7 linked regions of the Homo sapiens genome follow. The protein of the gene in region 6 purifies or fractionates together with the protein of the main gene of each other region. This does not show direct contact. Each region holds a gene or a part of one and is shown on either strand. Other genes may lie near its edges. The genes, in order: USP19, USP54, SLC60A2, TBCD, WDR59, CRYL1 and F2R.

Evidence for each region.
Region 1: the proteins of CRYL1 (region 6) and USP19 purify together in Homo sapiens (affinity purification with mass spectrometry; 2 studies listed by BioGRID and IntAct, with this or other methods). This does not show direct contact.
Region 2: the proteins of CRYL1 (region 6) and USP54 purify together in Homo sapiens (affinity purification with mass spectrometry; one large-scale study listed by BioGRID and IntAct). This does not show direct contact.
Region 3: the proteins of CRYL1 (region 6) and SLC60A2 purify together in Homo sapiens (affinity purification with mass spectrometry; one large-scale study listed by BioGRID and IntAct). This does not show direct contact.
Region 4: the proteins of CRYL1 (region 6) and TBCD purify together in Homo sapiens (affinity purification with mass spectrometry; 2 studies listed by BioGRID and IntAct, with this or other methods). This does not show direct contact.
Region 5: the proteins of CRYL1 (region 6) and WDR59 purify together in Homo sapiens (affinity purification with mass spectrometry; 2 studies listed by BioGRID and IntAct, with this or other methods). This does not show direct contact.
Region 7: the proteins of CRYL1 (region 6) and F2R purify together in Homo sapiens (affinity purification with mass spectrometry; one large-scale study listed by BioGRID and IntAct). This does not show direct contact.

The regions. Positions count from the first base shown.
Region 1 is NC_000003.12:49,107,550-49,110,823, reverse strand, and holds the end of USP19 (ubiquitin carboxyl-terminal hydrolase 19), read left to right. Parts: coding exon 1-113; intron 114-219; coding exon 220-380; intron 381-461; coding exon 462-640; intron 641-1,638; coding exon of another isoform or gene 1,639-1,866; exon of another isoform or gene 1,867-2,151; intron 2,152-2,295; coding exon 2,296-2,412; 3' UTR 2,413-2,774; downstream 2,775-3,274. UniProt on the Homo sapiens protein: Deubiquitinating enzyme that regulates the degradation of various proteins by removing ubiquitin moieties, thereby preventing their proteasomal degradation. Stabilizes RNF123, which promotes CDKN1B degradation and contributes to cell proliferation.
Region 2 is NC_000010.11:73,511,343-73,514,842, reverse strand, and holds part of USP54 (ubiquitin carboxyl-terminal hydrolase 54), read left to right. Parts: intron 1-3,500.
Region 3 is NC_000006.12:111,276,339-111,280,505, forward strand, and holds the end of SLC60A2 (sodium-dependent glucose transporter 1), read left to right. Parts: 3' UTR 1-3,667; downstream 3,668-4,167. UniProt on the Homo sapiens protein: May function as a sodium-dependent glucose transporter. Potential channels for urea in the inner medulla of kidney.
Region 4 is NC_000017.11:82,923,065-82,926,564, forward strand, and holds part of TBCD (tubulin-specific chaperone D), read left to right. Parts: intron 1-587; coding exon 588-669; intron 670-1,874; coding exon 1,875-1,993; intron 1,994-3,335; coding exon 3,336-3,427; intron 3,428-3,500.
Region 5 is NC_000016.10:74,978,624-74,982,123, forward strand, and holds part of WDR59 (GATOR2 complex protein WDR59), read right to left. Parts: intron 1-3,500. UniProt on the Homo sapiens protein: As a component of the GATOR2 complex, functions as an activator of the amino acid-sensing branch of the mTORC1 signaling pathway. The GATOR2 complex indirectly activates mTORC1 through the inhibition of the GATOR1 subcomplex.
Region 6 is NC_000013.11:20,442,358-20,445,857, reverse strand, and holds part of CRYL1 (lambda-crystallin homolog), read left to right. Parts: intron 1-3,500. UniProt on the Homo sapiens protein: Has high L-gulonate 3-dehydrogenase activity. It also exhibits low dehydrogenase activity toward L-3-hydroxybutyrate (HBA) and L-threonate.
Region 7 is NC_000005.10:76,726,126-76,729,625, forward strand, and holds part of F2R (proteinase-activated receptor 1 isoform 1 precursor), read left to right. Parts: intron 1-2,586; exon of another isoform or gene 2,587-2,708; intron 2,709-3,500. UniProt on the Homo sapiens protein: High affinity receptor that binds the activated thrombin, leading to calcium release from intracellular stores.

The sequences.
Region 1 (3,274 bases), on a different chromosome or scaffold from region 6:
CAGCTGTTGCTATGGCGCCTGCCAAATGTTCTCATCGTGCAGCTCAAGCGCTTCTCCTTTCGTAGTTTTATCTGGCGTGACAAGATCAATGACTTGGTGGAGTTCCCTGTTAGGTAAGCAGTGGACCTTGGTAACTGTGGGTGGGGTGTGAGGACCAGGATGGGCATCCTGAGCGCCTGTTGCCTGTCTCACCCCTCCCTGACTGGACCTGACCTGCAGGAACCTGGACCTGAGCAAGTTCTGCATTGGTCAGAAAGAGGAGCAGCTGCCCAGCTACGATCTATATGCTGTCATCAACCACTATGGAGGCATGATTGGTGGCCACTACACTGCCTGTGCACGCCTGCCCAATGATCGTAGCAGTCAGCGCAGTGACGTGGGTGAGGGCACACACAGCCAGCAGGATAGGTGGTAGGGGTGGTGGTGCAGACTTTGTTCACACTCTTCCCACCCTGCTGTAGGCTGGCGCTTGTTTGATGACAGCACAGTGACAACGGTAGACGAGAGCCAGGTTGTGACGCGTTATGCCTATGTACTCTTCTACCGCCGGCGGAACTCTCCTGTGGAGAGGCCCCCCAGGGCAGGTCACTCTGAGCACCACCCAGACCTAGGCCCTGCAGCTGAGGCTGCTGCCAGCCAGGTGAGGCATGTGGGAGGCTTTACAGAATACTGGGGGACAGTTCACAGACTGGGGCCGGGTTGGGGGATATAGCTTCCTCTCCTCCAGCCACAGGCCCATTGAGCCTTGGGATTCATGAGAATTGCAGAGTTCTCTTAACATCAAAGCTTTAGCCAGAGGCATCCCCATGCCTTGGGGACACTAACAAACATACAAGTACACTAACATGCTGCCACTGGCAAGCACATTGGCACCTACTTGGCACAGGTCAGGCAACTGCTCTGAACCTCACTGGGCACTATGCTGTGAATGAACTATACCTGACACTCTCCTAGATTTCCTCTGCACATTCCCCACATGCTGGCCCACACACCCTCACTTGTGATGTCCCTGAGTTCTAGTGTGCACTCAAGACAAGGCCTATTTGGGCTGGCCATGGCCTCTGGTGGCTGTTATACTCTTTGAGGTAAGCATCTGTCTTTGCTGAGCCTTCAGGATCTTCTCTTTAGTGACATGGTGTGCCATAGGCCCAGTTAGTGGGCGTAGGCACATCTCTTTTCTGGACTGGCCGTCTCCTTTCTGGCTCCATCCTCTCTTGAGCCTTCTCTGTCAAGCTTAGAGAAATCCTTGCAGAAGACTGGTCAGGATCTGGGTATGGGTGGGAAGGAGCAAGGAGATTGCTCTGGGATTGGCAGTCCTGTTCTCTATGAATCGGTGTCCTTTGGGGAGGCCTGGACTGAAATACTAACCAGATAACTCCCCTCCCACCTCCATGCGGAGCTGCATGTGGATTGAGAGCTGTTTAGGGTAGGCCAAAATGCTGTCAAGATTCTCTTACCCTTGTGCTCTTACTCTGGACAGCCCTGAGGTTGGCTGCCTGCCTTCCTCCTTGCTGTTTGATCTAGAATGCAGGGTGTTAGCCCCAGTCACCCCAGGTGGGACTGTCATGGCTAAGGGTCTCAGGGACACTGGGTCCTCCCCACCCCCGGGGTGCTGATGGCCGTTTCCACATACCCTAGGCTTCCCGGATTTGGCAGGAGCTGGAGGCTGAGGAGGAGCCGGTGCCTGAGGGGTCTGGGCCCCTGGGTCCCTGGGGGCCCCAAGACTGGGTGGGCCCCCTACCACGTGGCCCTACCACACCAGATGAGGGCTGCCTCCGGTACTTTGTCCTGGGCACCGTGGCGGCTTTGGTGGCCCTCGTGCTCAACGTGTTCTATCCTCTGGTATCCCAGAGTCGCTGGAGATGAGCTCGCCTGCAGGCAGCTGCTGTGAGCTGGCCTACCTGCCTGCCCCAGGCCATGCCTGCCTTTGTTGTGGGGAACACCTCTGGGCTTTGGGCCTCAGCTTATGCATCTGGTGGGAGAGGGTGGGGAGGTTGTGGCCCCTGCAGGGGCAGAGTATCCTAGGGTGTGTATCCATCTGGCTGTCTGTCCATTCATCCTGCTGCTCTGACCCTTGGCCTCAGGCTTGGCCCTGCCCAAGCTACTTCCTGTACTTAAAAGTGTTAATAAAACCAGACTATTCAGGCCCAATCTCGTCTCTCTGTCTCAACGCCGCTGCTGTCTGCGCCTGCCTTGGGACCCTCCCTTGGGTGCCAGGGCTCCAAGCCAGCACCCCCGGGATGCCAGGCGGCATGCTGGGCAGCCCCCAACCCCTGTCCTCGTATTCTGTTGCAGGGACTAGGCCCTGGCCAGGCCCCCGAGGTGGCCCCCACGCGGACAGCCCCTGAACGCTTCGCCCCCCCTGTGGATCGGCCAGCCCCCACCTACAGCAACATGGAGGAGGTGGATTAGCAGGTCCCTGGCTGATGGGGGGGACTGGGTTTGGGACACCCACACAGAGGGCCAGCTCCTTGCCGCTTCTCCTTCTCTAACCCAGAGGACACTGGCTCTGTCAATGGGAAGCTGAGGGGTATGATTTGGGTGTGGAGACCTCTCAGGTTGGGACTTCTTGTCAGCTTGGACCCCTGACCAGTGGGCTTTGGCTTCTCCAGCCGCCTCCAGTGCTGCGTGATTTGATTCTGTTGTACCTTCAATTCTTCTGACCCGCATTATAAACATTATAATTTTATTCTAAAAATTGTAATTTTTTTTGCATTTTGGAAGTGACTGCTGCTGTTTAAATATATTTTAAAAATAAATAATAAGTAAGTAGACTTAGTGACTGTGATCCACCACATGCTGGGGCCACCTCCCCTCCCCATCATTTGCGGTGTGTATGTGTGTGTATGTGTGTTTATATATGAGAGACCCTGAAAGTGCCCTAGTCTGAAGGGAGATGATGGGGTCCCAGCTCATGTCCTATGGGTCATGAAGCCCCCAGTGCTATCAGCTTTTTGGAGCCTACCTGCTGCTCTTTCATCCCACTGGTTCTGGATCCTACATAAGAGGCAGCTTGGTAGGCATCGTCAGGATCTCAATATAGCCAAGGGACAGAGGAGTATATGAAGCACTGGAGCTGACAGCGTGGAGTAAAAGGTGCATTCACCAGAGCAGCCTGGGGCTGACAAGTCAGGGAGGACTTGGGGGACAGAAGTACTGGGAGATCTTCCTCCTCCTCTCCTGTCCTCAGCTTTTTCTTTGCTGTAACTTGAACACTAACTGCATCCCTGCAGGTAACAGAGCAGGAGGAAAACTGCTGTGGGGCAGATCTTGC
Region 2 (3,500 bases), on a different chromosome or scaffold from region 6:
GTCTTGAACTCCTGACCTCAGGTGATCCCCCCGCCTCAGCCTCCCAAAGTGCTGGGATTAAAGGTGTGAGCCACCGTGCCTGTCCTAAGACTTGATATTAAGATACATTTCTGAGGATCCGTATCCTAATGTAGATTTTACAATAACATTTACTAAGGTGGTCTTTGATAGGACTGGTTGATATGGGAAGAATCTAAAGAATAAGGGAAAGCTGGAGTCTGCCTCAGTGAGCTTTCTATCTAAGGAAGCAAGAATACACAAATAATTTTTTTTTTTTTTTGAGACAGAGTCTCGCTCTGTTGCCCAGGCTGGAGTGCAGTGACGTGATCTCAGCTCACTGCAACCTCTGCCTCCTGGGTTCAGGCCACTTCTCCTGCCTCAGCCTCCCGAGTAGCTGGGATTACAGGTGTGTGCCACCACGCCCAGCTAATTTTTATATTTTTAGTAGAGATGGGGTTCACCATGTTGGCCAGGCTCATCTCGAAGCCCTAACCTCAAGTGATCCACTCGCCTTGGCCTCCCAAAGTGCAGGGATTATACACGTGAGCCACCGTGCCAGGCCACAAGTAATTATTTTAAGAATAATAAGGCCAGGCATGGTGGCTCATGCCTGTAATCCCAGCACTTGGGAGGCGGAGGTGGGCGGATCATGAGGTCAGGAGATTGAGACCATCCTGGCTAACATGATGAAACCCCGTCTCTACTAAAAATACACACAAAAAAATTAGCTGGGCACGGTGGCCCACACCTGTGATCCCAGCATTTTGGGAGGCCGAGGCAGGTGGATCACCCAAGGTCAGGAGTTCAAGACCAGCCTGGCCAACATGGTGAGACCCTGTCTCTATTATAAATACAAAAAATTAGCTGGGCATGGTGGCGGGCACCTGTAATCCCAGCTATTTGGGGGGCTGATGGCAGGAGAATTGCTTGAACCCAGGAGGTGGAGGTTGCAGTGAACTGAGATTGTGCCACTGCATTCTAACCTGGGCGACAGACCAAGACTCTATCTCAAAACCAAAAACAAAAAAAAATTTGTATTACCCAAAATAGCAACATTTTTCATTGCAGGTAGTTTGAAAATACATAAAGTATCAAAAATCACTGATAATCTCACTCTTAATGTTTTCATAAGCTTACCTTTGGTTTTCATTTTTATACACATGTACTATATAGTTTTGTTTTTGCAAAAAGCAGTATCCTTTACACTATATGTATACAGTTTAGTATCATGACTTTCTCATGTTATATCTGTGAGCATTTGCTGTAAAAACTACCTTTAATGGTTATAAAGTGTTTCATATGAATGTACTGTAATTTATTTCTTCAACCATCCTACTATTGTTGAATATTTAGGTTACTTACAATTTTTTTTTTTTTTTTGAGGCAGTCTCGCTCTGTCATCCAGGCTGGAGTACAGTTGCACAACCTTGGCTCACTGCAACCTCCGCCTCCCGGGTTCAAGCAATTCTTCTGCCTCAGCCTCCCGAGTAGCTGGAACCATAGGCGTGTGCCACCAAGCCTGGCTAATTTTTTGTATTTTTAGTAGAGAAGGGGTTTCACCATGTTGGCCAGGCTGGTCTCGAACTCCTGGCCTCAAGTAATCCGCCTGCGTCAGCCTCCCAAAGTGCTGGGACTATAAAGTGAGAAGTGACTATAAGGTGAGCCACCGCTCCTGGCTTACTTGTAATTTTTAATAACATAGTACTGTGTTGAATATCTTTGCACTTAAGTGGTCACGTTTCTCATGAGCTCCTTAGAATAACCTTTTAGAAGACTAATAACTAGTTGAATGTTATAAACTTTTTTTTTTTCATTTTTGAGACAGGGTCTCATGTTGTTGTCTTGGCTGGAGTGCAGTGACATGATCACAGCTCACTGTAGCCTTGACCTTCTTGGCTCAAGAGATCCTCCCACCTCAGCCCCTTGAGTAGTTGGGACTACAGGCATGCACTACCATACCTGACTAATTTGAATGTTATAAACTTAAAAAAAATATTGATACATACTGGCCAGTTAGCTTTGAAGAAGACTATACTTCTGAAAACAGTATGAAAGAGTACTTACTGACCATTAATTTTTTTGTCTAGTAGTGTAAAGAAACAAATTTTTAAAAATCTATCTAGTAGTCAATCTATTCTCAATATATTTATCAAATCAAGCGGAGCATGATGACTCATGCCTGTAACCCCAGCTACTTGGGAGACTGAGGCAGGAAAATCACTTGAGGCCAGGAGCTTCAGGCTGTAGTGTGCTATGAGCACATGCCTGTGAACAGCCACTCTCCTCCAGCCTGGGCAACACAGTGAGACCCTATCTCTTAAAAAAAAAAAGTAAAATCAAACTAGTCTTTATTTTTGTTAGAGTCCTTGGTTTAAAAACTGAGTCCTTAAGAAGTGACATGACAGGCTGGGTGCAGTGGCTCACACCTGTAATACCAGCACTTTGAGAAGCCAAGGTGTGAGGATCACTTGAGCCCAGGAGTTCAAGACCAGCTGGGCAACACAGTAAGATCCCCATCTCTACAAAGACTGAGAAAATTAGCTGGGTGTGGTGGTGCGGGTCAGTAGTCCAGCTACTTGGGAGGCTGAAGCAGGAGGATCAACTGAGACTGGGAGGTTGAGGCTGCGGCGAGCTGTGGTCATGCTACTGCGCTCCAGCCTGAGCAACAGAACAAGACCCTGTCTCAAAAAAAAGAGGAGTGATATGACATAGAATAAAGAAGTGATCAGATAGAATTAATTGGGAAGTAGATGAAGGAAAATGCCAATTAGGATTCACATATGAAAAAATATAATTTGGCCAGGTGCGGTGGCTCACGCCTGTAATCCCAGCACTTTGGGAGGCTGAGTCGGGTGGATCACCTGAGGTCAGGAGTTCGAGACCAGCCTGACCAACGTGGTGAAACCCCATCTCTACTAAAAATACAAAAAAAATTAGCCGGGTATTGTGGCACGTGCCTGTAATCCCAGCTACTCGGGAGGCTGAGGCAGGAGAATTGCTTGAACCCAGGAGATGGAGGTTGCAGTGAGCCGAGATCACGCCACTGCACTCCAGCCTGGGTGACAAGAGTGAAACTGTCTCAAAAAAAAAAAAGAAAAAATATAATTTGAGAGTTCTTTATCTTATTGTAAAACATTTATTAAGCACCAAATTACATTACTTTTTAAAATTTATTTATTTTTTGAGACAGAGTCTCGCTCTGTTGCCCAGGCTGGAGTGCAGTGGCACAACCTCAGCTCACTGCAACCTCCGTCTCCCAGGTTCAAGCGATTCTCGTGCTTCAGCCTCCCAAGTAGCTGGGATTACAGGCATGTGCCACCACACCTGACTAATTTTTGTATATTTTGTAGAGACGGGGTTTCACCATGTTGCCCAGGCTGGTCTCAAACTCTGAGCTCAAGCAATCCACCTGCCTCAGCTTCCCAAAGTGCTGGGATTACAGGTGTGAGCCACCACGCCCGGCCACCAAATTAGTTTTTCAAAAAATGCTAAAAAAAAAA
Region 3 (4,167 bases), on a different chromosome or scaffold from region 6:
TGTTTGTGTTTTTTGTCTTAGATTTTTTTCTTAATCAAGTTTTTCCAGAAGAGAGTAGCTTTAGGAAGAGAATAAACACATACTTTTAAGGTATTATCTCAGACTTTAGGCGCATTATGATCATATCAGTAGCACCCATGTACTGAATAAGTGAACTCAAAGAAAAGTTATGTTGGGCAACTACCTCAAAGTTTTGTTATCTCTGCTTGCAATTTTTGTTCAGTCATTGCACAAGTGCTTGAGGGCTTACTGCATGTGAGGCTCTGTAGACTAAGTATTAATGAACTTTCTTTTTTGTCCTTGCAGTAGCAGGTACAGCTTTGATCTCAGTTTTCTGCCAAATGAATGGTTCTGTGTTTTGTGCTCATTCGTTTACAGAGATCCCTCTGAACCACCTTGGAACCAGAAGGTGTGTGGTCTGAGAACGATAAATGGGCTGCTCTCTGCCTCTCTCACAGCAGTTCTGCCCCTCCTTGGGACCACTCGTTTTCTGCATTCCTGGCCCATCTTCTATATATCTCTGGTCCAGATTCCAGAGGAAACCTGTTTGACTTGAATAGATGCCATTGCCCTTATTGGGCCTTGCCTCAGGAGTTCCTCTGTGTATCTCTGGTCCAGATTCCGGAGGAAACCTGTTTGACTTGAGTAGATGCCATTGCCCTTATTGGGCCTTGCCTCAGGAGTTGCTGGTTAGCCTATGAAGGGGTTCCCTTTGGGTTGATGACATTGCTCCCATCCAGAAAGTGGCTACTTCTACCCTCCTACTCCCACCACTCTGCATGCAGGAGCTGTTATCATCAAAAGGGAATGTCCACTGTCTGCTCTGTACCAGAGAAGTGCTAGGCTTCATAAATATTGGTAATCGATACCTGAATGGGATGAAAATTGGCAGGTCCTGGGATGGATGGCCTGGTTCATCTGCATCAGAACTGGAAAAACAAAATCACACCAAATTGCAGACTTTTTTGGAAGAGCGTGTTAGACAAGGTTTGTGGATTGTTTGATTTTTACCAAGAAAGAAAGCTTTCTCCTAAGAGGGTAAGATTTCTACTTGAGTGAGCTCTAAGAGGAGTCCCAGTTTGCAAGAGATATTATTACAGTTCTCATCTGTGCGGACCAGAAAGTTTTCCAAATTCATGCATTTCAGTTATCTAACAGATATTTACTGAGCATTTACCATGTTCAGTAACCAGGGCCCTGGGAATATAATAGGAGAAGGCAGATGAGATCCTTGCCTTCACCAAGCTTATGTTTTTCTATTTTAAGTAAAATTTGCCATGACAAAATTTCTATCAGCGGAAGAGCCAGTAACTCTTATTGTAATAGGTTTTACCCAGTTTTAGAAAAGGAAAGTAGCTAAACTCTTGGTTCCTTGGTGTGTGTTTTTGTTTGTTCATTTCTAGTACTTGTCTATGTCTTTGGGGTAATTTTTGATTTAGAATTTTGTAGAAATTACTCGGCACAGTGTAGTTGAGGTGAATATAGGCAAGAAGGCTTAGGAAGCCTACAACAAAGGAATCTGACACCAACTTTTGAGATTTATTCAGTCCAGCCAAGAGAATATATTTATGGTCAAACTAGATCTTGGATTACAGCTCCAAAGACCCTTGGGCTGACAGAGCAGGTTCTCATTTCTCAGCTCTTTCCCTTATCACTTGCAGTGAACTCTGCCCCCAGGAGCAGAGTATCCAGTTCTGTGTCCAAGCACTCTATGAATCTTTACCCTTGTTGAAGAAATACTCAGAGACAGAAGCATTTAGAAAAGGAAAAGTTTACCTGCAAAGAGAGCAAGAGAATGACTGGCTTGCCTAATAAAAAACGTAAGTATTTGAAGGAAAAAATTAAAAACTGCCAAGGTTTCTGAGTTTGCATTAGACTGTTCACGGTGAAAAACAGTAACTGCCTCATGTAATTATTGTATTCATAAAGGTTATGGCAAATCTTCAGATGTAGTACAGGAAAAACCAAGGATAAAATTTCTTAGGGAGTCCAGGTTTATGGGAAACATTCAAGGTTTTATTGTTTTTTAGATCATCAACAGTTAGATGACCCTATCATTTTTGTTTTGTCTCAGGGTGCAACGTCTTTCTTTTCTGATGGTGATTGATATAGTTTGGCTGTGTCCCCACCCAAATCTCATCTTGAATTCCCATGTGTTGTTGGAGGGACCTGGTGGGAGGTAACTAAATCATGGGGGCAAGTCTTTCCCGTGCTGTTCTTGTGATAGTGAGGAAGTCTCACGAGATCTTTTGGTTATTATAAGAGGGAGTTTTCCTGCACAAGCCCTCATTTTGCCTGCTGCCATCTATATAAGATGTGATTTGCTGCTCCTTGCCTTCCGCCATGATTGTGAAGCCTCCCCAGCCATGTGGAACTGTAAGTCCAATAAACCTCTTTTGTAAATTACCTAATCTCAGGTCTGTCTTTATCAACAGCATGAAAACAGACTAATAGAATGATATAGGAAGTTCTTAGTCTTACTGAAGCAAGGGAAAGTGACATTTTGCTTCTACACCCTCCAGAATTCATAAGCTCCAGAAGGAAAGAGGACCCAAGGGAAAAACGTGATTGCAAAATGTGTTCTTGTCCTCTGCCCAAGTGATTAACCTTTGCTCCAGTGGTTTTCAAACCTGGCTGCTGTTAGAATCACCTGGCAGTGTTTAAAAATGACTGATGCCCAGCATTTTAACTTAAATACCAATTTGGTCTGGAGTGGAGCCTGAGTATGGATATTTAAAAAAGTAACTCCTCCTCCCCAATCCCCCGTAATTGTAATGTGCAGCCAAGATTGAGAACCACTGCTTTGATCAGTGCACAAAACTGGATCCTCTACTAATGACCGTGGTTTTTTCTTAGGCTTACTTACAGATTGATTAAGTTATGCCACTTTTGTAGATCCTTGAAATTCTGTGCACTTTCTTTCTTTCTTTTTTTTTTTTTTGAGACAGAGTCTCGCTCTATTGCCCAGGCTGGAGTGCAGTGGCGCTATCTCAGCTCACTGCAAACTTCACCTCCCGGGTTCACGCCATTCTCCTGAGTAGCTGGGACTACAGGCGCCCACCACTGTGCCCAGCTAATTTTTTGTATTTCTAGTAGAGACGGGGTTTCACCACGTTAGCCAGGATGGTCTTGATCTCTTGACCTCGTGATCCGCCCACCTCGGCCTCCCAAAGTGCTGAGATTACAGGCATGAGCCACCGCGCCTAGCCTGTGCACTTTCTTAAAGGAAAACTGGAGAGGAAGAGATCTCATGTTTTCTATTCACTCCACTGCTGCTTGGTCCAGTGCAGGAAATATTGCTGTTATTTGAAGTCCTTCCTAAAACAAAAGCTCAGATCTTTTGGAGGTTGCCCTTCTAGGCAGGTTTTCACCAGTCAATTTTGATTTGGGGGGCTTAACAGAGTAGGAATGATCTTGCAGGTTTATTACATCTGAATTTAAGACTACTCACCTAGGCTGGGCGTGGTGGCTCACACCTGTAATCTCAGTGCTTTGGGAGGCCAAGGCGGGAGGATACCTTGAGCCGAGGAGTTCAACACTGCAGTGAGCCATGATCACACCACTGCATGAGTGAGACTCCATCTCAAACAAAAAAAATAGACTACTCACTGTTTACATAGCTTTGTACCATATAAAAACTTGTTTGAATAAAATATTGATAACAATAGTGATGTTGGTTTAAGATTCATGTTTCAGTTGTTTCACTGATTTTTGAATTGATACATAATAGCTATGCATAATTATGGGTTCCCTGTGATAATTCGATACATGCATACAGTGTGTAATGAGCAAATCAGGGTAGTTGGGATATCCATCACCTCAAATGTTTATCATTTCTTTGTGTTGGGAACATTTCACATCTTCTCCTGTAGCTATTTTGAAATATACAATAAACTAGTGTTAACTGTAGTCACTCTACTGTGCTATCAAACACTAGAACTTATTCCTTCTGTCTAACTGTATTTTTGTATTTGCTAACCAACCTGCTGCCCTCTGCTCTGTCCCCTACCCTTCCCAGCCTCTGGTAATTATTATTCTACTCACTACCTCCATGAGATTAATTTTTTAGCTCCCACATCTAAGTGAGAACATGGAATATTTGTCTTTCTGTTAAGTGAAATAACTCCCTTAACATAGTGTCCTTCAGTTTCATCCGTGTTGCTGCAG
Region 4 (3,500 bases), on a different chromosome or scaffold from region 6:
CAGTGCGCCCCCGGAGCCCTGTCTCTCTAAATGAGGCTGACGTGGCTTGGCCTGAAGGCCCTGCCCCGTTACTCTGGGTGCATAGTGTATGCCTTTTTCTTCATAACTATTTCTGGGAAAGAAAAATATGCTCCATTTTATTATTGTTCCATATTAGAAGACAGACATTGTGGAAGGAATAATCAGGTTATCCATTCAGTTTCTTAGTTGTAGTGGTAGTAAAGTGATGCGTGTATCTGACAGATGATGGTGAGCAGGCGTGCTGGAAAGGAGTAGCATGACTTAGGGGTTCTTTTGGTTTGGTTCGAAAGTCATTGCTGTGCCGAGATCTCAGGGTGACCCGCTGTGTCCCTGGTCAGGTCCTTCTCTGACCTCAAGGGTGACCTGCTGTGTCCTTGGCCGGGTGCTTCTCCAACCTCAGGGCGACCCGCTGGGTCCCTGGTCAGGCAGGGGCTGCTCTGACCTCAGGGTGACCACGGTGTCCCTGGTCAGGTGCTTCTCCGACTTCAGAGTGACCTGCTCTGTCCCTGGCCGGGGGCTTCTCCGAGCAGAGCTGCTGTGCGCTCACCGTGCTGCCTTTGTTTTAGGATGCAGCAGTCTCGGCCCTGGCTGCTCTATGCAGTGAATATTACATGAAGGAGCCGGGGGAGGCAGATCCCGCAATTCAGGGTGAGTGGGGAGCCCTTTTCTTGAAGACTCCAGGGGCTTCCAGCAGGAAGCTGCTGGGGAGTGTCTGGGCACGGAGGAGGCCTCGGTTGTGCAGTGGAGCAGAGCCACCACGATCATGGCTGGAGTGGGACTGTTCGGGTCTCAGGTTCCCAGCCGAGGAGCTGTGGGCAGGTCCTGCAGCTGCCCAGGATGTTGCATCAGCTCTGAACAGGTGGCTCAGCAGGGACGCGTCTCTGTTGACGGCACCCTCTTGCTCCATCACCCAGGCTGGAGTGGTGTGGCGTGATTCGGCTCACTGCAACCTCTGCCTCCTGAGTTCAAGCAATTCTTGTGCCTCAGCCTCCTGAGTAGGTGGGACTACAGGTGCCTGCCACCATACCCGGCTAATTTTTGTATTTTTAGTAGAGACGGGGTTTTACTGCATTGGCCAGGCTGGAATCGAACTCCTGACCTCAGGTGATCCACCTGCCTCAGCCTCCCAAAGTTCTGGGATTACAGGTGTGAGCCACTGCACTCGGTCAGTGTTTTTAGAATTTTTGTATGCACCGTGACATTTTTCTGCTGTGTGTTTCACTCGTTAATACATTTTGCTGTTTTTTCCTTCTTTATGAAAGTAGCATTAGGCTGGCTTTACGCCGTGTCCCGTGCGTAGCTGCTGTGCCGCCTCACTGTACATCCTGCACCCCCGTGCTGAAGTTCAGGCTTGCTTCTCGCACATCATGTTCGAGGGATCTGCTTCATGAATCGTACTTTTATTTTTAAAGTGTCACATGCACATATGTTGGCCCACAGTGTTCCTTTATGTCATATGATAGAACATGCATTATTAATCACGTCAAAAGTGTGTGAATCACCACTTAAAATTATTATAAGTATATAAAAATCATGCATTAGCTTGGCATGGTGGCACACACCTGTAATCCCAGCTACTTGGGAGGCTGAGTGTGGGGTTGAGGCTGCAGCGAGCTAAGCTTGCACCACGGCACTCCAGCCTGGGTGACAGAATGAGACTCTCTCAAAAAAAAAATTCTCTTTCTGATTCCTATTTTGAGGTAGGCCACTTTGGAAACGTGTCTGCTTTGGGAACCTCAGGCGGCTCCTCCTTTGTTCACTGTGGCTTTGCTCCTGTTTGGGGCACACGTCGGGTGTGGCTGTACACGATGGGCAGCAGAGGGCCTCTCTTCACACTCGTTGCTTCCTTTCAGAGGAGCTGATCACGCAGTACCTGGCTGAGCTTCGGAACCCCGAGGAGATGACTCGCTGTGGCTTCTCGTTGGCCTTGGGCGCCCTTCCAGGCTTCCTTCTGAAAGGCCGGCTCCAGCAGGTGAGGCTGGCCACGCGCAGTGGACGGGGCCTAGGGCGAGGGTGTGGGAGCCTCGTGTGTTGGGGCATGAGGTAGGCCCAGCCGTTAATAAACCCATCAGTGCTTGTAGCTGGGAGGGGGTTCCTGGAAACCGGCACCTGTGGCCAGGAGGAAGGGGGCAGAGGGCACCCAAGGTCTGTGGCCCCTTAGGGCCCTGGCGAACCCTTTGCTGTCAGAGGACAGACTTGAAAAAGCTGAATTCTGGGAGGGAGGAGAAGGTGTTGTTTGTAGAAGCAGCTGCCGAGAGTGAGGAGAACACAGTTGCCTTTGTGCGTTGTGGAGCCGGGTCCTGTTTTGGTTGCGGCCGTGCATCCTGCATCCAGGTCGGGGCAGAGGTGGTTCCACGTCCTCCCAGAGGTCAGCCCCACGCTGGCCTCAGTGACCTGCTCTCTCACGCTTTCCTGTGGTGCTGGTCCCACTGACCAACCTGCCGGGAACTCCTGCTTGTCTCCCCTCCGGCCACCTGGCGTCTGAAGCTGGAATAGGCCCTGGCCACTGGGTTCCCCACGCCCTTCCCTCCCCATGGGATCCAGCCTTGGCACTTCAGGATCTGCAGCTCCAGACGGACTCCTGCCTGTGTGGCGGGTGGGCCTCGCAGCCGCCATGCCATCTAAAACTCGCATGTGGGGGTTTATCCAGTTGAAACACAGATAAATGTGAAACAGGATCACTTGGAGATATGACAGATGAGGTTGTCGGGACCCAGCAGCTTCCTTTGTCAATACCCCAGGTCTCAGCGTAGGACAAAAGGGGGGGACCTCAGGTAGGGTGTGGCCAGACCCCCAGTGACACCCTGGGGTGGGGGCTGGCCGTGGAGAGGCTGGAGGTGACCTCTCCCCGGGTGTCCTTCCTGGGTTGTACTGGGGGCCGTGGAGAGGCTGGAGGTGACCTCTCCCCGGGTGTCCTTCCTGGGTTGTACTGGGGGCCGTGGAGAGGCTGGAGGTGACCTCTCCCCGGGTGTCCTTCCTGGGTTGTACTGGGGGCCGTGGAGAGGCTGGAGGTGACCTCTCCCCGGGTGTCCTTCCTGGGTTGTACCGGGGGCCGTGGAGAGGCTGGAGGTGACTCCTCCCCGGGTGTCCTTCCTGGGTTGTACTGGGGGCCGTGGAGAGGCTGGAGGTGACCTCTCCCCGGGTGTCCTTCCTGGGTTGTACCAGGGGCCATGGATGGCCGTGAGGAAGGTGGTGCCAGGAGCTGCCTATCTCATGGTGTGGGGTCTGTGGCTCCGGGCCAACATTGCCACCTCCCTAAAGAGTGCACTTTGTTATAGCTTATGGTTCTTCTGTGATTCTTTATTGCTTTCCAGGTTCTCACAGGTTTAAGAGCAGTTACCCACACTTCCCCCGAGGACGTAAGTTTTGCTGAGTCCAGGAGAGACGGCTTGAAGGCCATTGCGAGGTGAGTCCCAACAGTTCCTCCCTAAAGTCGTAAGTCTCTGAAAGGCCAGCAGATGAACGCTAAGGGGGATGTT
Region 5 (3,500 bases), on a different chromosome or scaffold from region 6:
AGGGGGACCAAGGAACTGTTTGGAGTGATGGAAACGTTCTACATCATGATTACGGCAGTGGTTACATGACTACATCCATTTGTCAAAACCCAACAAACTCTACAATTATACCTGCATAAACCTGGATTTTTTTTTTTTAATCACTCTGGCTATATGGAAGATAAAATGGAAGAAGGAAATGCTACTGTGAGGGAAGAGTTGTCTCCAAGTATGTTCAGCTGCTTTGGACATACAGAGCTTGATTTTCTCGCAGATCCTGAAGTGGAGACACGAAGTAGGCAGCCACCGTGGGTCTGCAGTTCTTCTCTTCAACACAGGAGTCATCCACTGCAGCACTTTTGCAAATATCATTAGGTTAGCCTTGTAACTGCACATTCCAGCATCTTACCTTTCCTTGAGAGTGAAAACTAATCTCCACACTTCTCAGTACTCTGAACTGTACTTTCCAATATCATAGCCATTAGCCACAGTGGCTATTTAAATGGCAATTAAAATGCCATAAAATTGAAAATACATCTGTCGCACTAGCCCCATTTCCATCATCACTGGAAGTTCTACAAAACAGTGATGCTCTGGGCCAGGCGCGGTGGCAGCATTTTGGGAGGCCAAGGCGGGCAGATCACGAGATCAGGAGATTGAGACAATCCTGGCTAACACAGTGAAACCCCATCTCTACTAAAAAATACAAAAAAATTAGCCAGGCATGGTGGCGGGCGCCTGTAGTCCCAGCTACTCGGGAGGCTGAGGCAGGAGAATGGCATGAACCCGGGAGGCGGAGCTTACAGTGAGCCAAGATCGAGCCACTGCACTCCAGCCTGGGCGACAGAGTGAGACTCTGTCTCAAAACAAAACAAAACAAAACAAAACAAACAAACAAAAAAACAGTGTTGCTCTGGAAGATTACCTGCAAGTTGTGTGTTTTTTTTGTTTTTTTCAGATGGAGTCTCGCTCTTGTCACCCAGGCTGGAGTGCAGTGGCACGATCTAGGCTCACTGCAACCTCCACCTCCTGGGTTCAAGCGATTCTTCTGCCTCAGCCACCCGAGTAGCTGGGATTACAGGCACCCACCACCACACCCGGCTAATTTTTGTATTTTTAGTACAGATGGGGTTTCACCATATTGGCCAGGCTGGTCTCGAACTCCCAACCTCAAGATCCGCCTGCCTCAGCCTCCCAAAGTGCTGGGATTACAGGTGTGAGTCACCACACCCGGCCTTTTTTTTTTTTTTTTTTTTTTTTCTTTGAGACAGAGCTTCACCTTGTCACCCAAGCTGGAGTGCAATGGCGTGATCTCAGCTCACCACAACCTCCAACTCCTGGGCTCAAGCAATTCTCCTCCCTCAGCCTCCCGAGTAGCTGGGATGACAGGCATGCACCACCACGCCCAGCTAATTTTTATTGTATTTTTAGTATTTTTAGTAGAAACGGGCTTTCACCATGTTAGCCAGGCTGGTCTCGACTCCTGACACAGGTGATCCACCTGCCTCGGCCTCCCAAAGTGCTGGAGTTATACGCGTGAGCCACCATGCCTGGCCTAAGTTTTCTTATAGTGTTAACACTCATTGATGCCAGGAAGCACTTCACAGTAGTTGCCAAGCAGCACAGGCTCTTGATTATTAATTAGTGACAGTAATAGCCCAAAGCATTGTTTCATAAAATAAATGGCACTTTTATAAACTATAAAAAAGACTTTCACACTTCAGACTGGGGTTTTCCTCTGAAAAATCTAAGTCTTTTTTTTTTTTTTTTTTGAGACAGAGTTTCGCTCTTGCCCAGGCTGTAGTGCAACGGTGCGATTTGGCTCGCTGCAACCTCCGCCTCCCAGGTTCAAGTGACTCTCCTGCCTCAGCCTCCCGAGTAGGTGGAATTACAGGCACACGCCACCATGCCTGGCTAATTTTTGTATTTTTAGTAGAGATGGGGTTTCACCATGTTGGCCAGGCTGGTCTCAAACTCCTGACCTCAGGTGATCTACCTGCCTTGGCCTCCTAAAGTGCTAGGATTACAGGCGTTAGCCTACGCCCAGCCAAAAAATCTAAAAGTTTTAATTTTAAAAAATTATTTTCAGACCAGGTGCAATGGCTCACATCTGTAATCCAGCGCTTTGGGAGGCTGAGGCAGGCATATCACTTCAGGTAAGGAGTTCAAGACCAGCCTGGCCAACATGACGAAACCCCATCTCTACTAAAATACAAAAATTAGCCCGGTGTGGTGGGGCACGCCTGTAATCCCAGCTACTCAGGAGGCAGGAGAAGCACTTGAACCCAGGAGGTGGAGGTGACAGCGAGCTGAGATTGCGCCACTGCACTCCAGCCTGGGCAACAGAGCGAGACTCCATCTCAAAAATAAAAAAATATATATTTTTAGGCCAAGGTGGGAGGATCACTTCAGCTCAGGAGTTCAAGACCAGCCTGAACAAGAACGTAAAGCCCCATCTCTGCAAAAAAAAACACACAAAAAGGCCGGGTGCGGTGGCTCACGCCTGTAATCCCAGCACTTTGGGAGGCTGAGGCGGGCGGATCACAAGGTCAGGAGATCGAGACCATCCTGGCTAACACGGTGAAACCCTGTCTCTACTAAAAAAAATATATATATACAAAAAATTAGCCAGGCGTGGTGGTGGGCGCCTGTAGTCCCAGCTACTTGGGAGGTTGAGGCAGGAGAATGCCGTGAACCTGGGAGGCAGAGTTTGCAGTGAGCAGAGATCATGCCACTGCACTCCAGCCTGGGCGACAGAGAGAGACTCTGTCTCAAAAAAAAAACAAAAAAAACACACACACACAAAATTGTGGGGCTTGGTGGTGTGCACCTGTATTCACAGCTACTCAGGAGACTGAGGTGGGAAGATCACTTGATACCATAAGGTTGAGGCTGAGGTGAGCCAAGATTGCACCACTGCATTCCAGCCTGGGTGACAGAGCAAGACCCTGTCTTACACATATATACATATATATTTTTTGTATTTTTTTAGACAATACATATACATTTACATATATATATATATATATATATATATATATATATATATATATATATATTTTTTTTTTTTTTAGATGGAGTCTCACTCTGTCGCCCAGGCTGGAGTACAGTGGTGAGATCTTGGCTCACTGCAACCTCTGCCTCCCAGGTTCAAGCTATTCTCCTGCCTTAGCCTCCCAAGTAGCTGGGATTACAGGTGCATGCCACTATGGTCGGCTAATTTTTGTATCTTTAGTAGAGATAGGGTTTCACCATGTTGGCCAGGCTGGTCTCAAACTCCTGACCTCAGGTGATCCGCCTACCTCGGCCTCCCAAAGTGGTGGGATTACAGGCGTGAGCCACCACGCCTGGCCATATATGTATATTTTTTAGGCCAGGCACGGTGGCTCACGCCTGTAATCCCAGCACTTTGGGAAGCTGCAGCAGGAAAATCACTTGAACCTCGGAGTTCAAGACCACCTGGGCAAGATACAGAGACTCCTATCCCTATTTAAAAAAAAAATGCAAAATGAAAGAAATTT
Region 6 (3,500 bases):
GCCAGGAAATTCCTTGATTCTCTTATGATAAGCCAGCTAATTTTTATTATTTAGTTGTTGACTTTCCATTTGATTTTTGTCATAGTTTTACTTTATGCTGAAATTGTTTAATATCCTTTTAGTTTCTTAAACATCTTAATTATAGTTATTTCACAATTTATGTCTGATACCACCATTATGTGAATGCCCTAAGGGTCTATTTCTAAAGTCTGTTTTCTCTCTTGGTTTTCATTCAGGTCTTCCCTAATATTGTCTATTTGTTTGAGTATGAGACATTGCTTATGAAAAACTAGGGCTCTGGTTGATATTATCATGCTCCAGAGAAGCTTCACTAGAAGGCAGGTAGGCTAGGAGCATATCTCCCTAACTTAATTGTGGATTGAGATAAATTGAGACCAAGTTTCAGTCCTTGTGAAGACTGGTCTGTTGTTACTATTATTCCTGGTATAAGGGATGCTCAAGGGATATAGCCCTTGAGGGTTCCAACTGGAAGCCTGGGGCAGTTACCAGGCCCTGAATGCCAACATTTCCCCCAGCACTCTGAGTATGTTAAAAACTCTGCTTGTCATTTTAGCCATTTTGTCTGTGCTTTTGAAATAAACAGTTACCTCATAGGTAAAAGTGGTGCCAAGTGTAAGCCTTATATCTCTGGGTTCCCCACTACCTGGATCTTGGAAATAAACCTGAATTTTCAAAAATGAAAATGCTACTGTGAGTTACTGATGTCCTTCACATAAACTTTTTTATGTTCCATTTTTCTTCTTTAAAACTCACTCTTTACTTAAAGGGTCTCCAATTTTATGTTTCGTGCTATTCCCAGCACTTTGTTAAAAATAAAAAAGGATTTGTTACAGGCTCACTCCTGTAATTCTGGCACTTTGGGAAGCTGAGGCGGGTGGATCACTTGAGGTCAGGAGTTCAAGACCAGCCTGGCCAACATGCTGAAACCCCGTCTCTACTAAAAATACAAAAAATTAGCTGAGCATGGTGCTGCGCACCTGTAATCCCAGCTACTCTGGAGGCTGAGTCAGGAGAATCGCTTGAACCTGAGAGGCAGAGGTTGCAGTGAGCCGAGATCGCACCACTGCACTCCAGCCTGGGTGATAGAGCAAGACTCCATCCCCAAAAACATTTGTATTCAAAACTCTCACTTGTTCCTTATGAGAAATACTAGAAATGCAGTAAAACTATATAATTGCAGGATTAAATGGAATATTTTCAGTTGTATTATTTTTTCATGTCAAGCATTTTAACACAATTCTAAAGAAATGATTTCACAAACGGTACAAAAACATCATTGGAATGAGGATGGGACGGACACATAATCAGGACAGCAACCGATGCCTGTGCCACGGTGGCCCCCTCTGGGTTCTCTGCGGTCACCTGGAGAAAGGACTGCTCTTTAAAGCAAACAACAATAATCCTTGTAACTGGAACACCTAAGCCCCAGGAAGTCACATTCTTAAACTCAGTCTACACTGATTTTTACTTTGGAAAGATCTCTCTCGATTGGGTATAATTTCTTCTCAATTATGGCAGAACTGTTTAGGATTGGTAATATGCTTTTATTTAATTAAAAATTAAACCCTTTATTTTGATTTTTAAGGAAAAAACAAGCTCCTGGTTAGAGCATAGTGCAGTTAGTTGCCTGTAATGTTGAAAATAGATGTGCTCTTTCCCCTTTTACTTAACACATTATTTATTCTAGAGCAAAAAGATTCTTTTTTTAAAAATGTAAATAATTATGGTGTCCACCTCCTAAAAAGTGTTGTCACAGCAGTCTATTAATCTGACAGATTTTAAAGATTGTACTCCTGGGAGAAATGGTGAAGAGAAACTGGGGTGTTAATTAGGCAGATTAAAGCCAGAGATGTAACTAGTGCTAACAGAGTTTATAATGTAGAACGCCTCCATCTTCAGCCTGAGAGTGGATTTCCTTTTGCTATGATTGCAGTAGGATTCTAATTCATATTTCCTTTCTTACCATGTCTTTTCCTCTTAAAATTATCTAATAGATCTTCTTTGCATGTAAAGTACTCTAAGTATTGAAGTCTTCTAATTTGTTTTTTCTTTCTGTAAAGCACGTTGAAAGCTGCTTCCAGATATCTTGCACTAGCCAATACAGATTTTCTAGCAACAGGATGCCTATTTAAAATGCCTGGGTTGGCCAGGTGTGGTGGCTTACACCTGTAATCCCAGCACTTTGGGAGGCTGAGGTGGGCAGATCACCTGAGGTCAGGAGTTCGAGACTAGCTTGGCCAACATGATGAAGCCCTGTCTCTACTAAAAATACAAAAATTAGCCGGGTGTGGTGGTGCAGGCCTGTAGTCCCAGCTACTTGGAAGGCTGAGGCAGGAGACTCGCTTGACATAGGAGATGGAAGTTGCAGTGAGCTGAGATCATGCCATTGTACTCCAGCCTGGGCAACAGAGTGAGACTCCATCTCAAAAAATAAAAACAAAAAATAAAAATAATAAAATGCCTGGGTGGATTTAAAAACAACAATAACAAACTTGACAGAATTTTTTTTTCACCATGAAAATGTATGTTTTGGAAAATGTATGTTGCATAAGCAAGTGGCTAAACTTCAGAAGTGAGTACTTACCCAGCACACCCTTCCCCTGGGAGTGGTCCAGTTAGCAGACTTGCTGGGGCTGTGCCAGTTTTCCACATCAGGGCCCTAATGAGTTGAATTAACCACACAGGTAACTTTTACTAACCATAAAACACTGAAGTTTATAAATGATTTACTTTAAAAATACAAGTTAGAGAGCACTAAAAGTAATGCCTGGAATAGCATCATGTCGTTTCTTCCCTTCAGGAAAGGCAGGGAAACACCAGTGTCTAAACTCTGCCTCACCTGTCAGCTGCTGATACTGCCTGAGCCAGTGATCAGTCTAAGGAAGAGGGTGATCCTTCTGACAGAACAGTTGTGAGAACTAGGAAGTTGTATTGTGCTTTACCTCTCCCCAGAGTTTTATTTGTCAAAATCAGGGCATGCCGATGGTGGTTGTGCATGAGAATATTATTTGTCATGAGTTGTGTCTCCCTCCCCTGCCTCAAAACAAACAAAACCCAAACAAACAAAAGTCAGTGCTTTGAAAGATGCTGTCAACCTTTAATTAAGCAAAGTCAAGCTGATTACCTTTAGTAGTGGTAGAATTTTTGCTAGTGCTTCACATTTGGTGCCTGTCTCTAGAAAGGGCCCCTGAAAGACAGAGTTGAGAGTGCATGGGTTGCATCTCTCTGGGTTGGAGAGGGAGTGCAGGTGCCTTCTCAGCTGTCTCACTGACATTCTTCCCTGCCTGTCCTCCCAGTCCCTTTAGGGCAAAGAGAATGACTGCAGCTTCTCTGAGCTTTGTAACCAACTGCAAGTGAGGAAGGTGCTGATAAATTTGTCAGACTCCCTTTTTCAGACCAGGGGTATCTGAATGAATAATAGCAAGGAAATAAACTCAGTTGTGACATGGACAGCATCCTTATAACCCCAGCCCAGCACA
Region 7 (3,500 bases), on a different chromosome or scaffold from region 6:
ATGCCTGTAATCCCAGCACTTTGGGAGGCTGAGGTGGGTGGATCACTTGAGGCCAGGAGCATGAGACTAGCTGGCAAGCATGGTGAAACCCCATCTCTACTAAAAATACAAAAATTAGCTGGGCAGCCGGGCGCGGTGGCTCACACCTGTAATCCTAGCACTTTGGGAGGCCGAGGTGGGTGGATCACGAGGTCAGAAGATAGAGACCATCCTGGCTAACACGGTGAAACCCCATTTCTTCTAAAAATACAAAAAATTAGCCGGGCGCGGTGGCAGGCACCTGTAGTCCCAGCTACTAGGGAGGCTGAGGCAAGAGAATGGCGTGAACCCGGGAGGTGGAGTTAGCAGTGAGCCGAGATAGAGATAGCGCCACTGCAGTCCGGCCTGGGCGAAAGAGCGAGACTCTGTCTCAAAAAAAAAAAAAAATTAGCTGGGCATGGCGGTGCGTGCTTGTAATCCCAGCTACTTGGGAGGCTGAGGCAGGAGGATTGCTTGAACTGGGGAGGCAGAGGTTGCAGTGAGCCAAAATCGCACCACTGCTCTCCAGCTTGGGTGACAGAGCAAGACTCCATCTCAAAAAAAAATTGGTTCCTCTAGATCAGCATTTTTGCATATGCATGTTTTTGTGATATTAAAGTGCCAGAACCACAAACAAAAAAAATTAAAAATAAAAAAAAATGTTTAAGTGCCAGAAGCCATTCATTCTTTTCTTTCAGCACCCACACACTCATTGTGATCTTGAGAACAGCCTCACATCCACAGGGTCTGTTGGTACCAAGGTCAGGCTTCTGTGTGACTGGGGCAAGGTGAACACAGAGTAAGTTACATGCATTGCAAAGGTAAGAGAGTGATACTTCCAGAAAAGATTGTGAATTCAAAATTTGATTTATAGCTCTGAACCCTAGAGCTATATAATATACAACTTGTTCATTCCCTCATTGTACTAAAAAACTATAAACATTGCTAAGTAGGAGGGAAGATGAACCTAGATTTCCTTTTAACTTAATTAAGTGAGCAAACAATTGGGTATAAAAGCACACTACATGGAAGTGGGAGAGGAAGGATAATAGTAATTTCTTAAACTGCTTAATCGTTATGGTTTCCAAAGTGAATGTATGTCCTGTTTCACACGGGATGCTCCAGTTGCCAGATTTGTAGGCCAGACAGGAATTAGAATTCCATTTTAATGATTCTGAGCTTAATTCAGAGAAGTTAAGTGATCCCTGAACAGAGTCAATATTAGAATACAAATATGTGCCTACCACATGCAGGGCACAGGGTACTGGAGGTTCAGAGATTAACAGGAACAGTTCTTACCCTTAAGGATCAATGTAGACACAAGTGTGTATTCACATTCATCACTGGAGACATTCATTCCTTCCCTGTGACAGATCTCCTGCCAGGCCACCCCTTCATTGTCTGGAGACCCTCTCCCAACTTTGCTTAGGTAGCTTGACCTCAACCCTACACTACCAGGCTCTGCTCTGCTGTCTCTGAGTTGGTACTACTCTAGCTTTGCTCTTCATTTTGGAAATAGATGCCAACATATTGTATTTTATTTTCTATTTCTAGAATTTCCACTTGGTAGTTCTTTGCTGATATTTCCTATTTTCAGTTCATTTCTATAAAATATTTTTCTTTTTTTTTTTTTTTGCACATGGTTGTAATACATTCTTCAAAATCCTTATCTGCTAATTCCAACATCTGGGTCAACTTGAGGTTGGTTTCCGCTCACTGTCTTTTTACTTAAGACTGGGTCACTTTTTTTTTTTTTTTTTTAGAGACAGAGTCTCACTCTGTTGCCCAGGCTGGAGTACAATGGTGTGATGATACCTCACTGTAGCCTCGATCTCCCAGGCTCAACTTGTCCTCCCACCTGGGCTTCCCAAAGTGTTGAGATTACAGGTGTGAGCCACCACACCTGGCAGCCCCCTTTTTCTTTTATTTGACAAAAAATTATATATATTTATAGTGTATAACATAATGTTTTGAAATATGCATAACTTGTGAGATGGCTAAATCAAACTTATAACATGTATTACCTCAAATACTTATCATTTTTTGTGGTGAGACCACTTAAAGTCTACTCTCTTAGCAATTGTCAAGTATACAACACATTGTTATTAACTATAGTCACCGTATTATACAAGAGATTTTTCTAACTAATTCCTTTTAACAGAAATTTTGTACCCTTTGACCAATGTCTCCCCAGTCTACCCTACCCACCCATCCAACCCCAGCCTCTACTAACCACCATTCTCTTCTCTGCTTCCATGAGTTCAACTGTTTTCGATTCCACATATAAGTGAAATCATGCTATATTTGTCTTTCGGTGCCTGCCATATTTCACTTAACATTATGCCCTCTCGGCTCATCCATGTTGTTGCAAATGACAGAATTTCCTTCTTTTTTAAGGCTGAATAGTATTCCACTGTGTATATACATCATATTTTTTATTCATTCATTCATTCATCAGTGGATACCTAGTTTGATTCCATAACTGGGCTATTATAAATAATTCTGCAATGAACATGAGATTGCAGCTATTGACATCCTGGTCTTTTTTTTTTTTTTTTTTTTTTTGAGATGGGGTCTCGCTCTGTCGGCCAGGCTGGAGTGCAATGGCGCAATCTCAGCTCACTGCAACCTCCGCCTCCTGCGTTCAAGCAATTCTCCTGCCTCAGCCTCCCGAGGAGCTGGGATTATAGGTATGCGCTACCAAGCCTGGCTAATTTTTGTAATTTTAGTAGAGACAGGGTTTTGCCATGTTGGCCAGGCTGGTCTCAAACTCCTGACCTCAGGTGATCCACCCACCTTGGCCTCCCAAAGTGCTGGGATTACAGGCGTGAGCCACCGTGCCCAGCCAGCATCCTAATTTTATTTCCTTTGGATGTATGCCCAGCAGTGGAATTGCTGTATTATATAATAGTTCTATTTTTAGTTTTAGAGGAACCTTCATACTGTTTTTCGTAATGGCTATGCCAATTTAAATTCCCACCATCAGTATAGATGGGCTTCCTTTCCCCGTATCCTCACCAACACTTGTTATCTGTCATCTTTTTGATAATATCCATTCTAACAGGTATGAAGTGATAACTCATTGTGGTTTTAATGTTCATTTCCCTGATTAGTGATGTTGAGCATTTTTTCATATACTTGTTGGCCATTTGTATGTCTTCTTTTGAAAAATGTCTATTCAGATCCTTTGTCCATTTTTAAATCAGGTGATTTGTTATCTTGCTGTTGAGTTATAGGAGTTCCTTATATATTTTGGATATTAACCCTTTATCAGACGTATGGTTTGCAAATATTTGCTTTCATTTCATAAATTTTCTCTTCACTGTTGATTGTTTCCTTTGCTGTGCAGAAGCTTTTTACTTTGATACAGTCCCAGTTGTCTACTTCTCCTTTTATTGCCTGTGCTTTTATGGTCATTATAAAAAATTACTGCCCAGACAATGTCATGAAGCTTTTCCTCTATGTTTTCTGCTAGTAGTTTT